Linked DNA regions of Homo sapiens. The protein of the gene in region 4 purifies or fractionates together with the protein of the main gene of each other region. This does not show direct contact. Each region holds a gene or a part of one and is shown on either strand. Other genes may lie near its edges. The genes, in order: YLPM1, CENPF, RBM6 and ACER3.

Evidence for each region.
Region 1: the proteins of ACER3 (region 4) and YLPM1 purify together in Homo sapiens (affinity purification with mass spectrometry; one large-scale study listed by BioGRID and IntAct). This does not show direct contact.
Region 2: the proteins of ACER3 (region 4) and CENPF purify together in Homo sapiens (affinity purification with mass spectrometry; one large-scale study listed by BioGRID and IntAct). This does not show direct contact.
Region 3: the proteins of ACER3 (region 4) and RBM6 purify together in Homo sapiens (affinity purification with mass spectrometry; one large-scale study listed by BioGRID and IntAct). This does not show direct contact.

What each region holds. Positions count from the first base shown.
Region 1 is NC_000014.9:74,768,871-74,773,852, reverse strand, and holds part of YLPM1 (YLP motif-containing protein 1), read right to left. Parts: intron 2,162-4,982; exon of another isoform or gene 2,107-2,161; intron 1-2,106. UniProt on the Homo sapiens protein: Plays a role in the reduction of telomerase activity during differentiation of embryonic stem cells by binding to the core promoter of TERT and controlling its down-regulation.
Region 2 is NC_000001.11:214,643,992-214,648,973, reverse strand, and holds part of CENPF (centromere protein F), read right to left. Parts: intron 4,418-4,982; coding exon 1,574-4,417; intron 300-1,573; coding exon 147-299; intron 1-146. UniProt on the Homo sapiens protein: Required for kinetochore function and chromosome segregation in mitosis. Required for kinetochore localization of dynein, LIS1, NDE1 and NDEL1.
Region 3 is NC_000003.12:49,963,737-49,968,718, reverse strand, and holds part of RBM6 (RNA-binding protein 6), read right to left. Parts: intron 1,522-4,982; exon of another isoform or gene 1,250-1,521; coding exon 1-1,249. UniProt on the Homo sapiens protein: Specifically binds poly(G) RNA homopolymers in vitro.
Region 4 is NC_000011.10:76,918,919-76,923,900, reverse strand, and holds part of ACER3 (alkaline ceramidase 3), read right to left. Parts: intron 3,795-4,982; exon of another isoform or gene 3,646-3,794; intron 1-3,645. UniProt on the Homo sapiens protein: Endoplasmic reticulum and Golgi ceramidase that catalyzes the hydrolysis of unsaturated long-chain C18:1-, C20:1- and C20:4-ceramides, dihydroceramides and phytoceramides into sphingoid bases like sphingosine and free fatty acids at alkaline pH.

The DNA.
Region 1 (4,982 bases), on a different chromosome or scaffold from region 4:
GCTACTCCGGAGGGTGAGGCAGGAGAATCCCCTGAACCTGGGAGGCGGAGGTTGCAGTGAGCCGAGATCGTGCCATTGCACTCCAGCCTGGGCAACAGAGAAAGACTCTGTCTCAAAAAAAAAAAAAAAAAAAAAAAAAAAGAAAGAAAACAGCACACTGACCATGAAAGCCAAAGCCAATAATAATAATAATGTAGCATTAAAACACTTCCTTCCATTATTTTAATACTGAAAACATCAACAGACTTATCCTTCAGTTTTAAAAAAATTAGTACATTCTCTTTCAAGTAGAAGTTAAAAGTTTCCTTTTTTAAAGTTGCTTTGAAAGCATTATTAAAAGATACAAAGATGCAAACTATCTTTCACAAACTAAGCCAATGCTACAGATATGAAGACTGTACAGAATGAAAACTGTACAGGTCCAGATTCTTTATCAGCTTCTTCATCACCTATTCTCATGCTTTGTCTTAGATCCAGACCAGGGTTAAGAACTTGTTAAGGGCTGAAGTACTTGTTGATTCACTGACAGTATGCCTTGTAGGTCAATTTCTCTTTTTTTTTTCTTGAGATGGAGTCTCGCTCTGTCGCCCAGGCTGGAGCGCAGTGGCGCGATCTCGGCTCACTGCAAGCTCCGCCTCCCGAGTTCACGCCATTCTCCTGCCTCAGCCTCCTGAGTAGTTGGGACTACAGGCGCCCGCCACCACGCCCGGCTAATTTTTTATATTTTTTAGTAGAGACGGGGTTTCACCATGTTAGCCAGGATGGTCTCGATCTCCTGACCTTGTGATCCGCCCACCTCAGCCTCCCAAAGTGCTGGGATTACAGGCGTGAGCCACCGTGCCCGGCCGCCTTGTAGGTCAATTTCTATTTAATATGAACCCTATAAGTAGTAACCAGATCTAATTCAATCCTATGGTAGGCTTCAGCACATTTTTGAAGCTCTGCAAATAAATAATAATGATATCACTCACAAATGTCCTTACTGACCCTAAGAGAAGTGTGATCATCCCTATTTTAGAAAGAAAAAAAATGCCTGAACTTGCTAATGATGCCAGCTCTTCTGAATGTCCCATCATATCAGATAACTCCATTTCATATGGGATGTTGTTTTATAGGTAGAGGGAAATCATAATATAGGTCACATTTAAAACGAGATTGAATGAAGGGATTTCAAACATAAAGAATGTAGAACTATTGGCTGGGTGCGGTGGCTCACATCTGTAATCCCAGCACTTTGGGAGGCCAAGGCGGGCGGATCACAAGGTGAGGAGTTCGAGACCAGCCTGACCAACATGGTGAAACCCTGTCTCTACTAAAAATACAAAACTTAGCTGGGTGTGGTGGCACATGCCTGTAATCCCAGCTACTCGGGAGGCTGAGGCAGGAGAATCGCTTGAACCTGGGAGGCGGAGGTTGCAGTGAGCCCAGATCCTCGCGCCACTGCACTTCAGCCTGGGTGAGAGCGAGACTCCATCTCAAAAAAAAAAAAAAAATTAAGAATATAGAACTATTTGTCACAAATACTGTTATTAAGAAAGATGCTGCCGAGGCACGAATATCGCTTGAGCCCAGGAATTCAGACCAGCCTGGGCAACATGGCAAGATCCCATCTCTCTGAGAAAAAAAAAAAAAAAAGAAAGATGTTGATTTTAATTTACTCAGGAAGCACTTACTGACCACTGCTGCTAGTAATGAACTAGATACTAAATGATTTTCCAAGTGGAGAACTATAAAGGAGGTGAGTGTTTGTGTGTAATGTTTTAAAGATTAATTTTAGAAGATTACCTTCCCTATCCAGGTTATCATAAATGCCTATAAGACAATGTTCTATGTCTTATATTCTAAAGCAGGGGGCAGGGAGGACACCTGGTAAAATAATGAATTGGGTTTCCATTTTAGAAATTTATTTAAAATAGGCTTAAATATTTTTGAGATTCACATTCTACTGTAAGAATCAGGGTCACCAGATAAGCTTAGTCCCCACCTATTTTTATTTTAAATGCTCATTTACTTCATCTATTCCTCCAGCTCCTTCCCTCATTCTCTCTCTCCTTCAGTCAAACTTCTTGAAAGAGTTGTCTGTACTCACCATCCCCATTTCCTCACCTTCCATCACTCCTCAAATCAATGCAATATGGCTTCAGTCACTATGAAACTGCTCCTGCCAAGGTCAACAATAATCTACATGTCAGTAGGTGCAAAAGATAACTCGCAGTCTTTATCTTGCTTGACGTCTCAGCAGTACTTCACACAGCTGACGACTCCCTCCTCCTAGAGTCTGTTCCTTGACGTTCATGGCAACGCACTATCCACTATCTTGATTTTCCACCTATCACACTGGTGCCAAAGTAACTGTGGTTTTGCCATTAAAAGTAATAGCAAAAACTGCAATTACTTTTGCACCAACCTAATATGAATACCTATTTGGCCATTCTTTCATTGGTTCCCTTAGATACTGCTATTTGTGGAGCTAGGCTTAATGTCCTTTAACCTCAGTTCTTACTCTACACACATTCCTTGAGAGGCTTCATCTATTTCTGTGTCTTCAAATACCATTTTTATGCTGATGACTTATAAATCTATGTCTCCCAGATCTTACATCTAGACTCCAGAGCTATATCTAACTTCCAAGTGGACATCTCCATTTGGAATCTATGTCTCAAGAACCCCAAACTCAGTATGTCTGAAACCTAACTCATGATTTTCTCCTCACCCCCAGAAATGTTCTTCCTCCTCCTCCTTTAGGTTTTTCTGTTTTAGTAAATTTGACCACCATCCACCCTACGGCCCAGCCCAGAAACCTAAGAATCATTCTTGATGCCTCCCTCTCCATAACTACTCAACCTCAAAGTGAATTCTAGCAGCTAAATATTTCTCCACTCTTCCCACTTCTCTCCATCTCAACTAATACCATCAAAGTCTAAACCACTATTATCTCTTGCCTGGATTACTTCAATAACTATTCTCTCTAAATCACTCTTGCTCCTTTTAATTCTGCTCTCCACACTGCAAGCAGAGTGAGCTTTCAAAAATGCCAATCTGTCACATTCACCTATGTAAAATCCTTCAATGGCTTCCAACTGCCCTTAGAATGAAGTCCTTACAGGCCTTCCCTGATCTAGTTCATACCTACCATCCTCACCCTGAGCTTTCAGTGAGCCTTATTGAACTTAATTCTTTGAATTCTAACTTCTGGTTAATTTCTACTCTTTTTCTTTTTTTTTAACTGAGATGGAGTCCCACTCTGTCGCCCAGGCTAGAGAGCAGTGGGGCAATCTTGGCTCACTGCAACCTCTGCCTCCTGGGTTCAAGTGATCCTCCCACCTCAGCCTCCCAAGTAGCTGAGATTAAAAGCGTGCACCACCACACCCAGCTAATTTTTTGTATTTGTAGTAGAGACAGAATTTCACCATGTTGGCCAGGCTGGTCTTGAACTCCTGACTTCAAGTGATCCGCCTGCCTTGGCCTCCCAAAGTGCTGAGATTACAGGCATCAGCCACTGCACCTGGCCTACTCATTTTTTTTTTTTTTAGGTCTCACTCTGTTGCCCAGGCTAGAGTGCAGTGGCACGAGAACTCCTGGGCTTAAACAATCCTCCCACCTCAGCCACCCGCAAGTAGCCGGCACTACAGGCATGCAACACCATGCCTGGCTAGGTTTTTTTTTTTTTTGAGTCGGAGTCTCACTCTGTCGCCCAGGCTGGAGTGCAGTGGCGCGATCTCGGCTCACTGCAAGCTCCGCCTCCCGGGTTCACACCATTCTCCTGCCTCAGCTTCCTGAGAAGTTGGGACTACAGGCGCCCACCACCACGCCCGGCTAATTTTTTGTATTTTTAGTAGAGATGGGGTTTCACCATGTTAGCCAGGATGGTCTTGATCTTCTGACCTCGTGATCTGCCCGCCTAGGCCTCCCAAAGTGCTGGGATTACAGGCGTGAGCCACTGCGCCCGGCCACCTGGCTAGTTTTTTAAACTTTTTGTGGGCGGGGGGCGGGGGGGGGGGTGTCTCACTTTGTTGCCCAGGCTGGCCTTGAACTCCCGGCCTCTAATGAGCCCAAAGAACTGGGATTACAGGTGTGAGCACCCAGTCCTCCTACTTATTCTTTAGAGTTCATTTAAATATCACTTTACAGGCCCGGCGTGGCAGCTTACGCCTGTAATCCCAGCACTTTGGGAGGCCGTAGCAGGTGGATCACGAGGTCAGGAGTTCAAGACCAGCCTGGCCAAGATGGTGAAACCTCTTCTGTACTAAAAATACAAAAAAAAATGGCCGGGCACTCTGACTCACACCTGTAACCCCAGCACTTTGGGAGGCTGAGACAGGCAGATCACCTGGGGTCAGGAGTTCGAGACCAGCCTAGCCAACATGGTGAAACCTCGTCTCTACTAAAAATACAAAAATTAGCCAAGCGTGGTGGCAGGCGCCTGTAATCCCAGCTACTCCTGGGAGTAGCTGAGGCAGGCTGAGGCAGGAGAATTGTTTGAACCCGGGAGGCAGAGGTTGCAGTGAGCCGAGATCGTGCCATTGCACCCCAGCCTGGGCAACAAGAGTGAGACTTCGTCTCCAAAAAAAAAAAAAAAAAAAAAAAAAAAAAGATAAAAATACAAAAAAATTAGCCGGGCGTGGTGGCAGGCACCTGTAATCCCAGTTACTAGGGAGGCTGAGGCAGAAAATTGCTTAAACCCGGAAGGCGGAGGTTGCAGTGAGCCGAGATCGCGCCACTGCACTCCAGCCTGGGCAACAGAGCGAGACTCCATCTCAAAAAAATAAAAATAAATAAAATAAAATAAAAACAAATAAAAAATAAAAAATATCACTTTACAAAGGGAATCCTCTTTAATTAGGTTAGCGCTCCCAGCTATATTCAATTATTTAAAATATATTTGTTCTCCACCTCCTATGCGCTAGATCCTATGCAAGGTACTGTGAATACAGTGGTAACTTAAAAAAAAAACAAAAAACAAAAAACTTGCCTTTGCCAGT
Region 2 (4,982 bases), on a different chromosome or scaffold from region 4:
TCAGATTATGACATAAGCACAGGGTTATTTTTTTCAAGAGCTAAAAATAAGTTAGGTAAACAACAGAAGGTCTTACAGGAACCAATAAGGAGAGTGTGCACAATGAATTAACAGATCATAATAACACTTGTCACAAAGAAACTTACTTTGCTGCTCTTTATTTCTTCCAACAGTAACTGCAACTCTCCAGCTAGCCTATTTTTCTCTCCACTGAGTTCTTCTTGCAGCTCTGCTGTTTTCTGTGCCATCTCATGCATTTCCCTCTGCAGCTCAGTTTCCTTTGCAGTCATTTTGTTTACCTGAAATTTCATCTTTCATTAGAATCTGCTTTTTGGTGGTCTGTTTTGATCAGATCGACCACTCTGATACAACATATTCATGCCATTTATTTTAGCCTTCAATCATAAAATGGAAGCTGGCTAATCCCGCCTTTACTAATCCACTCAACTCAACATTCTCAAAACCTACTAGTAAGCTTACCTTTTCTTCCCAGAAAAGATTTAATAGAAGAATAGTAATAAGGGAAGGAATGACAAGGAAAGATAATATCCCTAAGTCTTAAAATCTTTCACAAAGGTATTAATTTGAATTAAACTTAAACATCAAAGATTATCATTATCAGGCAGTATCTTATCACTTCTTGGATCTCTACTAATCCCCCAGTGCCATACTAATCTGCAATAAACATGCTTATGATTACTGAAAAACAGTTAAAAAGCTATTGTTTGCATTTGTCCCTTGAAGTGAAACAGCTTGCTATGGTTTGTCTCATCATCTCTATACTGACTGCCATCTCTTGCAAGGTATCCAAAACCCCAAAATTCTTAGAAAATACAGGGTGGAGATGAATTTTGTGGATAGTCCTTTTATTCTTTAATATTTGTTCAGCAAGAATTAAGTGTGACAAAATCACTTTCCTAGATCACTAAGTAAGCTCACTGGGCCAAAACTTAATTTTTCTTTAATAATTGAGCCTCTTGATGGCAGATCTTCCCTTTAATCATCAACTAATACAATAGAAGACTGCACAAAGAGAAGGTATAAGAGGGACTGAAAGCACGAAATCCCCAAAACACACCCTAGAAGCCATGAGTGCTCTGTTGGTTACAAATCTATCAGTATCTTTAAAAGTGCTTTGTCCTGAAGGCAAAAAAGACACAGTAAGGCAGGCAGATCCTTTCCGATCCTAGATAATGTCTGTTATACTCTCTATAGCAGTGAGTCTCAACTGGATATGGGGAGGCCACTATTCTGATGTACTCTAAGAAAAGGAAATATAACTAGAACAAGGAACTGTGCATAAACCAAAGCTTTGCCCTTATGTAGGTGCCACATTAAAAACCTGGTCCAATCCATGAACATGTCCCAAAGAATCAGCCAGAATAGTGACTACTGCCAGAGCCAACTCAGTGTTTCTGCAATTCAAGACCCAGTAAACATAAAGCCTTTACAAAGTTTGGTCCAATATAGCAGACACGGTCTAGAAGTAAATACAATTCACAGTGTCTAGAAGAAAATATGGTTTCCTGCCTCATGACTACATATTTAAACATAAACAGATATAGCCACTTACTTTTTCAACAAAGGACATTTTGTCCATTTTTGTCAATTCAAGCTCATTCTCTAGATTCTTGTAAGAACTCTGCAGCACTTCTAATGTGTCCTGCAAAGAGGCATTTTTGGATTGTAGCACTTGGATCTTCTGCTCCAATTCCACTGTCAGATTTCTCAGTTCTAAGTTTTGCTCCTTCCAAAGTTGGTGCTCTCCTTCCACCTGGGACAGTTTAGAGACAAGCTGCTCTTGGTCTTGAATTTGATTTTTCAGTCTACTGATTTCTTCATCCTTCTTCTCCAGTTTCTGCTTGCCATCTTCTACTTCTTGAATGAGGCCATTCACTGAAGATTGCAAAACAATATAATTATTTTTGGCCTCATCAAGGCCTTGTAGCAACTGAGCCTTCTCAAGTTCAAGACACTCTACTTGACTACTAAGATTCTGCTCTTTGGCCTTACAGGCTTCTTGGTCATTATGCAGGGCTGCCACTCTCTCATTGAGCTCTTTTAATTGTGTTTGAAGCATCTCCATGGCAGTGCTTGATTTTTCTTTCATCTGTACTTTCTCTTGCTCTTTTTCTTGCAAAATATTTTCAAATGATGAATTTATTATTTCTAATTCAGATATTCGCTCTTGCTCTTTTTGTAATTCATTTGTCAGATTTTCTTTTTCTGACCTTATAGTAACAACATCTAATTCCAGACCTCTCAGACTTTGGGTCATCCCTTCTATTTTTGCTTTTAGGGTCTCTACCTCTCCTTTGGAATTCTCTGCCTCAAGAGCTGCATGCTCTTGGTTTGTCCTGGCTATCTCTAGCTCTCTTTCAAGGTTCTCCACTCTACCCTTAAGTAAATCTGCATGATGCTCACTTTCCTTCAGTTGTTGTAAGACACAGAGCTGCTTCTTTTCATCAGCTTCTAGGCGGGCTCTCAGCTTTTCAATGCTATTTCTCAGCTGATGCTCTTCCTCTATTGGTGGGTCTAGACTCTGTTCTGTGGCCTTCATAATTTCTTGGTCACCACACAAGGCTGCTACTGCCTCATTTAGCTCCTTTAACTGATTCTGAAGCATCTCCACTGCAGTTTTAGATTCTTCTTTGATCTGTATCTCTGCTTGCTCCTTTTCTTCTAACAGACTTTTAAATGAAGAGAGTAACTTGTCTAGTTCTGACAACTGACCTTGTTTTTCTTGTATTTGTTTTGTCAGATTTTCTTTTTCAGACCTTAACGTGACAAGGTCTAATTCAAAAACTTTCAGGCTTCTGGCCATCTCTTCTATTTGTGTTTTTAGAGTCTCTACTTCTGCTTTGGAATTCTCGGCATCAAGAATCACTAGCTCCTGGTTTTCTTCTGACATCTGCAATTCCCTTTCAAGGTTCTCAACTTTATCCTTAAGTGAATCATTCTCCCGCTCGCGTTCTTTCAGTTTCTCTGCGATGTGCAGCTGCTTCTTTTCATCGGCCTCAATGCGAACTCTCAGTTTCTCGATGCCTCTTCTCAGCTGATGCACTTCCTCCTGTGTTGAGCTCAGCCTCAATGCGAACTCACCTTTCTCCACCAGTGCGGCCTCCAAGGCCTTGGAGACATTCAGCTTTTCATAATCTGATTCACTCAGTCTGGCCTGCAGGCTTTCAGATTCCTTGACAAGCAATTCTTTCTCTTTATTCAGTTGTGCAATTTGGTTTTCCAGCTCACATTTTGTCAAAGACAGTGCCTGTGAGTCCTTTTCCAAACTCTGCAGCTTTTCCTGGAGATGAGTTTTGTCTTTTAACAGCTCACTCACATCAGAGGACAAAGTCTGAAGGAGTTCCGTCTTTTCCTTCACCTCTGCCTCTGCCACCTGAATGCAATGGAGACACTCACTTTGATGAGACTCAAGCTCTTGTGTTTTCTCCTTCATTTTTTCAGACAACTGATCCAGTGCCGTGGTTTTTTTTGACATAGTATCTAATTCTCCACGAAGCTGGTTTCTCTCACTTGTGACCACTGAGAGTTCTTCTTCAAGGCAGACAATAACCTTCTGCTTATTTTCATTGTCTTTTTCTAAACATAGCTTCTCTGTTTGAACTACCTCTAAGTCAGCCTCCAGGTAGAGGGCTTCATGCTCAATGCTAGCTTTCTCCGATCTGATCCTACTCAGCTCATTTTCCACATCAAGAAATCTCTCCTTCCAGCTGTCATTCACCTTGGCCACATTATCTCCAATATCTTCACGTGATGATTTATCTGCATGCATTTCTAAATCAGAATTGAGGCCTTCAGAAGTTTCTACTCTCTGGAGTAACTCCTGGTGATCACAAGAAAAATATTCCAATTTTTCACTTAAATCTGAGTTTTCTTTCTTAAGTTCCCCAACTATTTTTTCCAATTCTATGCATGCTTCAATTTTGGTCATTAGTTGTACCTCCTGTAAATGGAGTTTTGAGTCTAATTCTTTCATTTCATTTAGCAAACTTTCAACTTTTCTGTCACGGTCCTCTATCACATGAAGTAATCTCAAATTCTCATTTGATGTCTCTTTTACCCGCAGTTGAAGATTATGGATATCTTCCTGATTCCCCAGGAAATCCATAGGTACCAAAGCATTAGGACCAGAAAATGACAATTCAGAAATGCATTCTGAAGAGCCCTGGGTTTTATCTTCCCCTGGAGGCTCATAATTGGTATCTGGGGACTGTTCCCCAGAGCACTCTCCTGTGGGTTTCACTGCACCAGTCTCAGTTATTTTCTCAATGTCTAGATTGAGGTCCTGCTGAGCATCTTTATCACAAATCTGATGAACATCATGCTTTGGTGTTCTTTCTGTAGTTTCTGAAGTATGTTCTTTTGATATGTCACAGCTCTCATTTCGGCCTTGAATAGCCTGTAATTATAATACATAACAAGCATGCATTTTATTTTTCAAAAAGAATCAAAATAGAATAGATTTAGTTATTACTTTTTAGAAACTGATGCGTGGCCTCTGCTAAACACATCTCTTAAAGTGGTGAATTTCCCACTACATCTTTCTCTCTTCATTCAAATGTTCAACATACTTATACGTTCAGTAAGTGGCCCCTATGGGCAAGACACTGGGGTTAGGCATTTATCTTGAAGACAAACCCTTCGGCTCAATTACAATTTGTAATGTATTTAAATTTCATATTTTTCCCTTGCTAAGAATATTCAGGTAGCCTAAATATGAAATCTCTTTGTAATTATTAAATAAGAGGCTAACAAAATGCTCAGCTTCCACCTTCAGCATTTATGATACTCTTTAATAAGGCAGTAAAGTTTCATAACCAGATTCCCAGTCCAAGGACTTAATCCCCAATCCAGCACTTACTGTACATTATTGGATAAATTACATATTTGAGCCTCACTTTCCTCTCATCTGTAAACTGGGGATCTGCTGTTGCACCTACACCTGCCATCACCTCACCATGACC
Region 3 (4,982 bases), on a different chromosome or scaffold from region 4:
TTTGCCCTCTGGAAAAGACTTGCTCTGGCCATAGCCAAACATCTGGCTTCCTGGCAGCCTATGATCCACATCACGGTACTCCATGCTTCTGTAATCGGTGTCTTGCCGCCCAAGAAAGTCCAGACCGCCTTCTTCTTTAAACAGACCAGCATCTGAACTCTGCTCTTCACGTCCAGAAAGCTGTGACTTATCTTGGTCTTGAACTGGACTTTGGCTGTTCTGAAAGTCTGCTGGAGACTCATGTTCAAAGGCTACACCTTGTGTTTCTCCTTCTCTTGTTTCTGAATGCTCAAATTCTCCCTTCTGAATGCCAAAAGCAGGCCTTTCTATCGTATGGTCATGTGTGGATTCTTCTCTCCTGTTCACATTCATACCAGAATGTTCTCTATCTTGTGTAGAGGGCTGAATGTAATCCAAAATATTTGGATCCACAGGGGGCATCTCCCTATCTTTAAATTCCATACAAGATCCCATCTCTCTGCCCCTAAAATCCTGATCAGTCCTAGATCGGTGTCTACCTCTGAAATCTGAATGTGGCGTATCCCTGTCCCTAAAGTCTAGATCAGTAGTACCTGAACCTCGGCCTCTAAAGTCTACTTGTGTTCCGTCTTTGTCTCTAAAGTCCAAATCAGATACATCTCTATTCCTAAAATCAGAACGGGACTGTTCTCTGGCCCTAAAATCCAAATCTGATAAATCCCTTCCCCTAAAATCTGCATGGGATCCATCCCGGCCTCTAAAATCTAAATCATAAGTGCCCCGGCCCCTGAAGTCAGATGGAGGAGCATCCCTACCTCTGAAGTCAACAGCGTGAGCATCCCTGTCTCTGTAGTTCATATGAGGTGCCTCCCTACCTCTATAATCCATAGAAGTACCATCTCCACCCCTATAGTCCATAGGTGGTCCTTCTCTATCCCGAAAATCCCCAGAATGTATGTCCCTACCCCTGAAGTCCAACTGTGATGAATCTCTGCTCTGGAAATCAGAAGACGAAAAATCTCCCCCCCTGAAATCATGTCCAGGTCCCTCCCCTCCTCGATAGTCACCATGCGGTCCGTCTCTAGCTCCATAGCTGAAAGAATGCTCCTCTACATTTGCAAAAGGAGGCCCCGAATGCCCCTGGAAATCAAAGGGAAGTGAATCTCTGCCAGGAAAGTTGCCAGAGTGTCTCTCTTGAGCATGACTCTTAAGGGGAGGAGGAGGATAATCCCTGTTCCACCCGGGAGCAAACCTTTCTTCTTGGCTCCCACTGTAGAAACAAAGACAGTGTTATTCATATTGTCCAGAGAGTTTGAAATCTACACACCAGCATATTCTTCTCTAATCACAGCACATTCTTCTGTAAACATTTTTTTTTTGGCAGAGTTCTGTAACAAGGTCCTAGATCTGCAGAAAACAGCAAAGTTTTGCTATTTTAAGACGAAGTGGCGGAGTAAACTTTTATGCTCCCATTTCAGAACACGAGGAAAGTCAACACAAGGTTTTCAACATGACTGCTGCAGAAAAAGCTTTCACCCAGTCCTGCAACAGGGAAAATCCGCAATACCAAATAAGCTAACAATGGTGACATACTACAAAAATTTCCATTTCCTACAGCCAGGGAACTTAAGAATTCCAAGGTCAACATGACGATTCCTATATATCAGAAAAATCAATGCACTGTAAATTTCTTACAGTAAGTTTCAGGAGGTATCTTTCTCACGCTGCATCCAGCGGTAACATTCAAAAATATTTTATTACAGATACAGCATGGACACCACCCAATCAAAATGGATGCAGGCCCAAAAAGAAGAAACACTGGTTGTAAATCACCAGTAGGAACAAGCACACCAGTGTTCACCAGCTGAGCATCAGCCCTGGCTGCATCTAAATCCCAGTTCTACAGTGGCTCCACCAAGAAGCACTCTAACCTGGGTCCTATTATAACTACCCAAGGGTATCACAGAAGGTAGAAGGTAGTATGAATCATGCCACAAAGCATGTATAAGTCATCTAAGCCACGCAACAGCATCCAGGGGCTCAATGCTGAGATAGACCTAGAGAGAGCATTAGGTCTTCAAGCATGATCCCCATGACCCAAATGAAGAAGCTGATATTCCATATTCCAATGTCTCATGCTACTTTTTCATGGCAATAAAATACATTTTAAAAATAGACATAGTATTAAATTTACATTCTCAATTTATAGAACTCAAGAGATAAACAAGATGTGACCTAATCTTTCATACTACCCAACTTCTTCCCTTTGCCTAACCTTCAGGGCATTTTACATGTTTTGGCTTCAGTCCAAGATTCCCTAAACTAGTTTAAGTAGGCAATTAGGCACCTAGGATCCTAGGCAGGGAGACATGAAAAAGGAAAACATGAAAAGACCTGAAGGGTCATCTGTTATTCAGCAGTAAAACAAAAGCATTAAGATATTAATACCAACTCAATTCTTGCCTCCCAGAACATACAGGGTCTATCATAAGGCCCTTCTGAGCTCAGACTATGCTACTATACTAAAATTCAAAGGACAACTGATTCTGGGTCACTCAGTTCAAGAGAAATAGTTGCAATGCCAAACCTTTTCTTTCTCTTTTTCTTTTTTTTTGAGACGGAGTCTCGCTCTGTTGCCCAGGCTGGAGTGCAATGGCATGATCTCGGTTCACTGCAGCCTCTGCCTCCTGGGTTCAAGCAATTCTCATGCCTCAGCCTCCAGAGTAGCTGGGATTACAGGCATGCGCCACCATGCCCAGCTAATTTTTTTATTTTTAGCAGAGATGGGGTTTTACCATGCTGCCCAGGCTGGTCTTGAACTCTTGACCTCAGGTGAGCCACCCATCTCTGTCTCCCCAAGGTTAGGGTTACAGGCGTGAGCCACCATGCCCGGCCAACCCTTTCTTAAAGTAACAGGAATTTAACAGCATTAACCTAAACACTAGAATGATGTACATTTAATGGATTTTCAGAACATGATGACTTCCACTGACCCCCATTAACACTAGTTATGTCTATGTGGTTCATCATAAGAGGAGCAAGTTTAGATGTTCTTCTTTTTTTTTTTTTTGAGACGGAGTCTCGCTCTGTCGCCCAGGCTGGAGTGCAGTGGCGCGATATTGGCTCACTGCAAGCTCCGCCTCCCGGGTTCACGCCATTCTCCTGCCTCAGCTTCCCAAGGGGCTGGGACTACAGGCGCCCGCTACCACGCCCAGCTAATTTTTTTGTATTTTTTGTAGAGGCGGGGTTTCACCGTGTTAGCCAGGATGGTCTTGATCTCCTGACCTCGTGATCCACCCGCCTCGGCCTCCCAAAGTGCTGGGATTACAGGCGTGAGCCGCCACGCCCGCCCTAGATGTTCTTCTTAGGCAATACAATTTAACACTAAAATTAAGATGTTACCACTAAATACAGTGTCTCTCATGTTTAAAATCATTCAAGTCTTTCTTGCAGGAAGATTTAAGCTTCATCAGACACTCATGGGATGAGGACTGAGGTATGAAATCTACATGTTTTCTGACCAGAACACATCCAACATGGCCTAAAGATTATCTTACTCTTCTAAATTAAGATCAAATAGATTTAGAGTAACTTACTGTAGCAGGGTTCTTAGATTTGTATTTTATACAGACGAATCAAGAAACCATTCTACTAATATAAAATATCAGTAGTTATGAAAATTATTTTCAACCAAATAAAAACAAATTTTAAAAGAAAAGTTCAAAGGAAATGTAACAAAATCATTTTCCTATATCTGTTTTGGTTCAAATTAGTTCCCAAAAACTGTCTCCCTCCTAGTCAAAGATGTTAAAAAACAGCATATAATGACTTACATTTAAACTAAAATTAAGGTGGGAAAATATAATTTTAAATAAGTTTAAACGAGTCAAAGACAAATGTTCTAAATTTGAAAAAAGTTAGACAATAAAGCTAAATTAACCTAACATTTCTGAATGCTTACCTAAACCACGTTAATTCTATACGAAACAGCCTTACTTACAAAATAGTTACCCATAAATACAAGTAATAAGAGGATAGATTACAACCTAAATATTTTTAAATGGTAACGTACAACCCCATTGATCTAGATGAGAGGTCAGGAAACTTTTTCCATGAAGAGCCAGTTCGTAAACATATCGGATTTTGTGGGTTATACAATCTCTGTTACAACTATTCAACTCTGCCATCATAGCATGAAAGCAGCCATACACAATCTGCAAATGAGTAAGAGTGGCTGTTTTCCAGTAAAACTTTATTTACAAAAACAGGCTATCAGCTGTAGTTTGCTGACCACTGATCTAATCCTTAGTATTTTGAAAGAAAAAAAATACCCAACATCACACTGTTGTTTTAATTTAAAGACCAATCTCTGTCATTCAGCATTTATGAAATACTAGTTTTACTAAACATTATATGGATTTTCTAAACTCAGTTCTCCACCTAAATTTTTCATTGGAACTCCAAGCTTCAGAACAATGAATGAGAACATCTGTTGCATTTAAGTAATAAAATCTTGCAGATTGCCAATCCAAATGGCAGGTGCGGTGGCTCACACTTATAGTCCCAGCACTTTGGGAGGCTGAGGTAGGTGGATCACTTGAGGTCAGGAGTTTGAGATCAGCCTGGCCAACATGGTGAAACGCCATCTCTACTAAAAAAAAAAATACAATAATTAGCCAGGCATGGTGGCATACACCTGTAGTCCCAGCTACTCAGGAGGCTAAGGGAGGAGAATCACTTGAACCTAGGAGGCAAAGGCTGCAGTGAGCTGAGATCATACCCCTGCACTCCAGCATGGGCAACAGAGTGAGACTCCATTTTGAAAAAAGGTAAAAAAAGGAAAATGTACTAGTTAATAGAAGTTTCAACTGGAGCAACAATACTTATGAATGCATACATTTAAAGGTCAGATTTATTTGCTATGTACCAAGTAAAACCAAAAAAGTCACATTCATATAGCATCTCATTAATTGTAAACACAATACGAAAAATGTTTAAATACT
Region 4 (4,982 bases):
TCGAAGCCAGGAAAGAATCATGGTGAAAATATTAGAGGGAACAGTACCAGGTGTTCACACATAGCCAGTACACACATAGCCAGAAACAGTGCCTACTCCCAAAAGCTGAAATGGTAAAATTTGTATCACACTGGGCATTGGATAAAGGAATCAAGAAGGCCTGGCCTCAGTAATAGGGAATAGCTAGTACTAGACTGAACCCTGTTCCAGACACACCTAACAAATCACAAAAGCAAAATCCAAAAGGATCAAACTGTTTCCAAGTAGCTTCACTGAAATCCAGAACAAAATTCAAGACTATTTATACTAATACAAAAGTTATTCAGCACCTAACAAAGTTAAAAAAAGCACGATGTCAGGTATTCAATCAAAGATTACCAGGCATACAAAAAAAGCAAGAAACATGATCCATGAGGAAAATAATCAACTGGAACCAACCCAGAACAGATGTTAGAATTAGCAGACAAGGACTAAAACAGATCATATAAAAGGCTAGAAAATGCAAACTAATCTACAGTGACAGAAAGAAGATCAGTGGTTGCTGGGGGAGAAATGGTGGAAGTTCAATGCAGAAGGAGGGCTTACAAAGGAATAAAATAAAACTTGGAGGTGAAGGATATGTTACTATCTTGTTTTTGATGGTTTCACAGGTATAAGCCAATGTCAAATTTTAATTTGTACACTTTAAATAGGTGCAGTCTGTTTTGTATCTCAATTATACCTCAATCAAGCTGGGTTTGTTTTTTTTTTTAATTTTGCTTCTGGGGAGTAGAATTAGACAGTGGGAAGCAAAGAAGGGTTGGGAAAGAACATTGCCTTCTGGTTTTGTTAAAGTTGTTTAGCATTATCTAGATTTTTAAATTTTTTTTATATATTGCTTTGATAAAATAAAAATTAATACAGAAACCATTTAGGAGAGGGAGTAAGATCGTTGGGAATAGTTTCATAGATGTATTAAGATTTGAGCTAGACCCTGAAAGGAGAGAAAGGAACAAAAATATGCTGAGCCTATTAAGTACCAGGTACTGAACTTTATATTTTACATGTGCTATCTTACTTGCTTCTCACAACCAATCTTGTGAAGTATTGTTGTCCCTATTAAAAATAAACAGTAAAAGCGGGTTAAGAAATTATACAATTTACAGTATACAATTCCAAGTTCTCACAATAAGCAAATGGTGGTGGCAAGATTTTATTCCAGGTCTATCTGTCCTTATAGCTAATGTTCCTCTCACTAGATGTGCTAGCACAATGTTCACACAGAGGGTGCTTATTAATTATAATGTTTTAAAAATTATATCAGAGTATTTTATTCAGAATATATTAAATGACTTCCAAACTGTACAAAGAATAAAGTAATTTGCCTAGGTAGAGTATGAAAATGTAAGGTGGGGAGCCAGACAGATTGAGAGTTATATATCCAAACAGCAGTTATCAATAGTTTTAAGTAAACCTGTAGGAGATGTTGAATATTTTACCATTCAGGAGTGCCCTAAGATTCAAACTAATGAAAATCTTTACTGATGACTAAGATAAAGCAATGGAAACATGCCCAAACGTACAGGTAGTATTAAATTTAGCTGAAATGTCAATAGTATGGAAGTCAGTAATACATTTCAAATTACCTGGAGGCAGGGAGTGCAGGAGGGTCTTACAAACTATATGAAACTCATTTAAGGACAATGCACAAGTTTTACAAATTAGAATGAAGAATTGCAAACCACAAATATAGGCTTGTTAGAGAGAGTAAGGACAACCCTGACAGAAAGTTCCAAAGACAGAAAGATGACAGTAGGCTATTCTGGGAGGAAAATCTCAATATACTAGTATTCAGAGGTAAAAATGGAAAGAGCTAGATAGTGGTCCTCCTACTTTTCTCTGCTTTAATTCAGCTTCTCATTGGGATGTTTATCTATTTGTGGCACCCTAAACAAAACAGAAATACTAAAGCATTCAGAGTAGAGACTCATATAAAGGCATAATATACTAAATAAATAAAACACAACATATAAGGAATGGAATGACTGCTATCTTCAAATATCTGAAGGATTCCTGGGTCAGATTGACAATCTGAACACGTAACTGCAGTTTTGGTGTTACAGATATAATTTGCAATAGCATCAAAACACATCACATATCTAGGAATAAATCTGACAAAGACATATAAGACATAATACTAATAAAAATCCCAAATGGTTTTGGGTACAAATTAAAAAGCTGACTCTTAACTTTATATGAAATACAAAAGGCTAAGAAGAGCCAAGACAATCTTGAGTAACAACAAACCTGGAGTATTTACACTACTAGATATCAAGGCCGACTAACAAGGTTAAATAGAACAGGTAAGATTATAAGAACATACTAACATTTACGAGCACCTGATTTATGACAAACATAAGCCTGCAGTGTATTAAGGAAAGGATGGTCTTTTCAATACAGATACTGGATCAACTGCATATTTATATAGGAAAAAAATTAATCTGGATCCCAGGTTCACACTCCTTACACAAAAATAAATTCCAGATGGGAGCTTCTCTGAACCCATTCTGGTTCAAGGGCTGCCCAATTCGATAAACAATTAAAAATTTGTTTTAATTAAAAATAAATTCCAGAGGTACTATAGATCTAAATGTAAAAGGTAACACAATAAAACCTTCAGAAGAAAATATGGGAGAACATCTTTATCACCTTGGAGAGGCAATGATTTTTTTCAGTAGGACATGAAAAGGATTAACCACAAAGGCAAAAAATTGATAAATCAGGTAAGACTGTAAAGTCAGGAAAAAAGAATAAAAGGTTACTTTTAAAAAGCTGATTTAAAGAATAATAGATATGTAATTGCTTTGTAAATAAGCAATTTAGCTTATATAGCTATACATGTTAGCTAATTTAATTTTACTAAGCAAAATAATGCACATAAAATGATCGTGGACTTAAAACTTTGGGTAAAAAAATGGTTTCAGCCCAGGCATTGTGGATCATGGCTATAATCCCAGCACTTTGGAAAGCCAAGGGGGGAGGATTGCTTGAGCCCAGGAGTTCGACACCAGCCTGGGCAACATAAGGAGAACCCATCTCTACAAAAAATTTTTTAAAATTAGCCAGGCATAGTGGCACTTGCCCGTGGTCTTAGCTGCTCAGAAGGCTGAGGTGGGAGGATCGCTTGAGCCTGGGAGGCTGAGGCTGCAGTGAGCCATGATCACACCACTGCACTGCAGCCTGGGTGACAGAGCAAGACTCTGTCTGTTAAAAAAAAAAAAAAAAAAGTCAAGAGTTCAATCAGAAAAGATAAACCAGAGTAATTTGAATAGAGAATTATTAACTTATAAGAGTAAGGAGAGACAGGCTAGTCACAAGTAAAGAAAACTCTACAGAATAAAGGAATATCAGAGGTAAGGAGCAGCCACTACCCCTAAGGCTGAGATAGAGCATTAAAAAAGAGGTTTCCCCAAGGCTGAGATGCAGACCTTGCTGGAGAAGGCATGACCATGGTTCACTGAATAGCCGAGAAGTTGCTGTGGTGCTATACCCATAGAGCTTGCTGAAATCTACTGTTCAGAACTTGTCAGAACTCTGCCCTCTAGGGTGCCAGCTAAAGCTAATCCCATAGAGCGGAGAGGTAGGTGGGCAGGGGATGCTACTGACCACTAGGTGCTGCTGACAGCCACGTTCTGCAATAGCCTGGCACCAGAAGCTGACCAAGCTTTAAGAGGTGGGCACTGGGGAAGCCTCAGCACTGTAGGAGCCAGAAGCTATTAAGCCACTTGGACTGCAAGAGCTGGCGCCAGAGAAGTTGCCAAGCCAGCACACCAGAACCAGGAAGGAAAATCTCTTCCTCTTGCAATGTCTCTCTGGCGCCCTCTATTGACAAAATTTAACATCCAGCCAGTTGTCAAAGGAAAATATTCAAAGGGCTCAGGTCTATTTTCACCAACCATGCAATGAATGTTGAACTCAGAGCTAAGAAGTAATAAATTGATAACGACCACAATTATAAAACTATGTTTTCATCAATCATGACTTGGTAAAACTATAGTTGGTGAGGGTTCCCTAACCAAGAAATTAAGAATAAACATTTAAGCAGGTTAAATAATGGATTTCCCCCTTTTTCCATATTTTCTACAATGTTGCTATATTGTCTTTATAACTGAAAACTAAAGTATTAAAAAGATGAATGGTAGAAAATAAAATTACTTCTACTAAGAGTTTAATTGGATTTGAGGTTAACTGCTTCCAGAAAATTCAATTAAAAAATTTCTGTTCTGGAAATAAAAGCGAGATATTCATTCATACACCACACAATAGTGTACTAAAATATTTTGAACACTTTTTTTCTGGAAGGAAAGTCTTATTTTGATATAGATTTAGATTTTTGAAAACTATGATATTTTTATACCCCCAAACACATTCTCCTTATAATATAAATTACAGGCAAGACTGACGTTACAGTAATTTCACGATTTCTTAATAGGTAAATTTATCTTTCAGCAAGGTAAACGGAAACTCAAATATCAAAAATATGAGAAACAAAGTTTGGGGAAAAGCACATGTGCAAAAGGGTACAATTTAAGAGAATTGTGAATGAAGATACAGTAGGAAAGTGTTTTCTCATAGGACAGTAGGTGGAGCCAGTGTGCTCCACAATCTAAACGGTTTTCCAACATTTGGCTGAATACATAAAACCCTGAGGTGACTGGATAAACAATTTAGAGCTCGGTTGTATTTACAACTGTAAAACCATCACCCAGAGCTAAAGATAAATAAATAGAAGCATTAAAATCTAGTGAAGCTGAAAAAGTGATCTATATTGCTTCACTTCCACTGTGAAAAGCCGTCCTGCCCAGTCAGCAAATTAGCTTGATGAAAGCTGTAACTGGTTTGAGCCTGAAAGCAACCCAGCACTTTTCCCCAATGCAAGTTCATTTTGCCAAATATTTTACTGATTATGCAGATCTTCAAATAATGTTAAACATTCCCAGAGC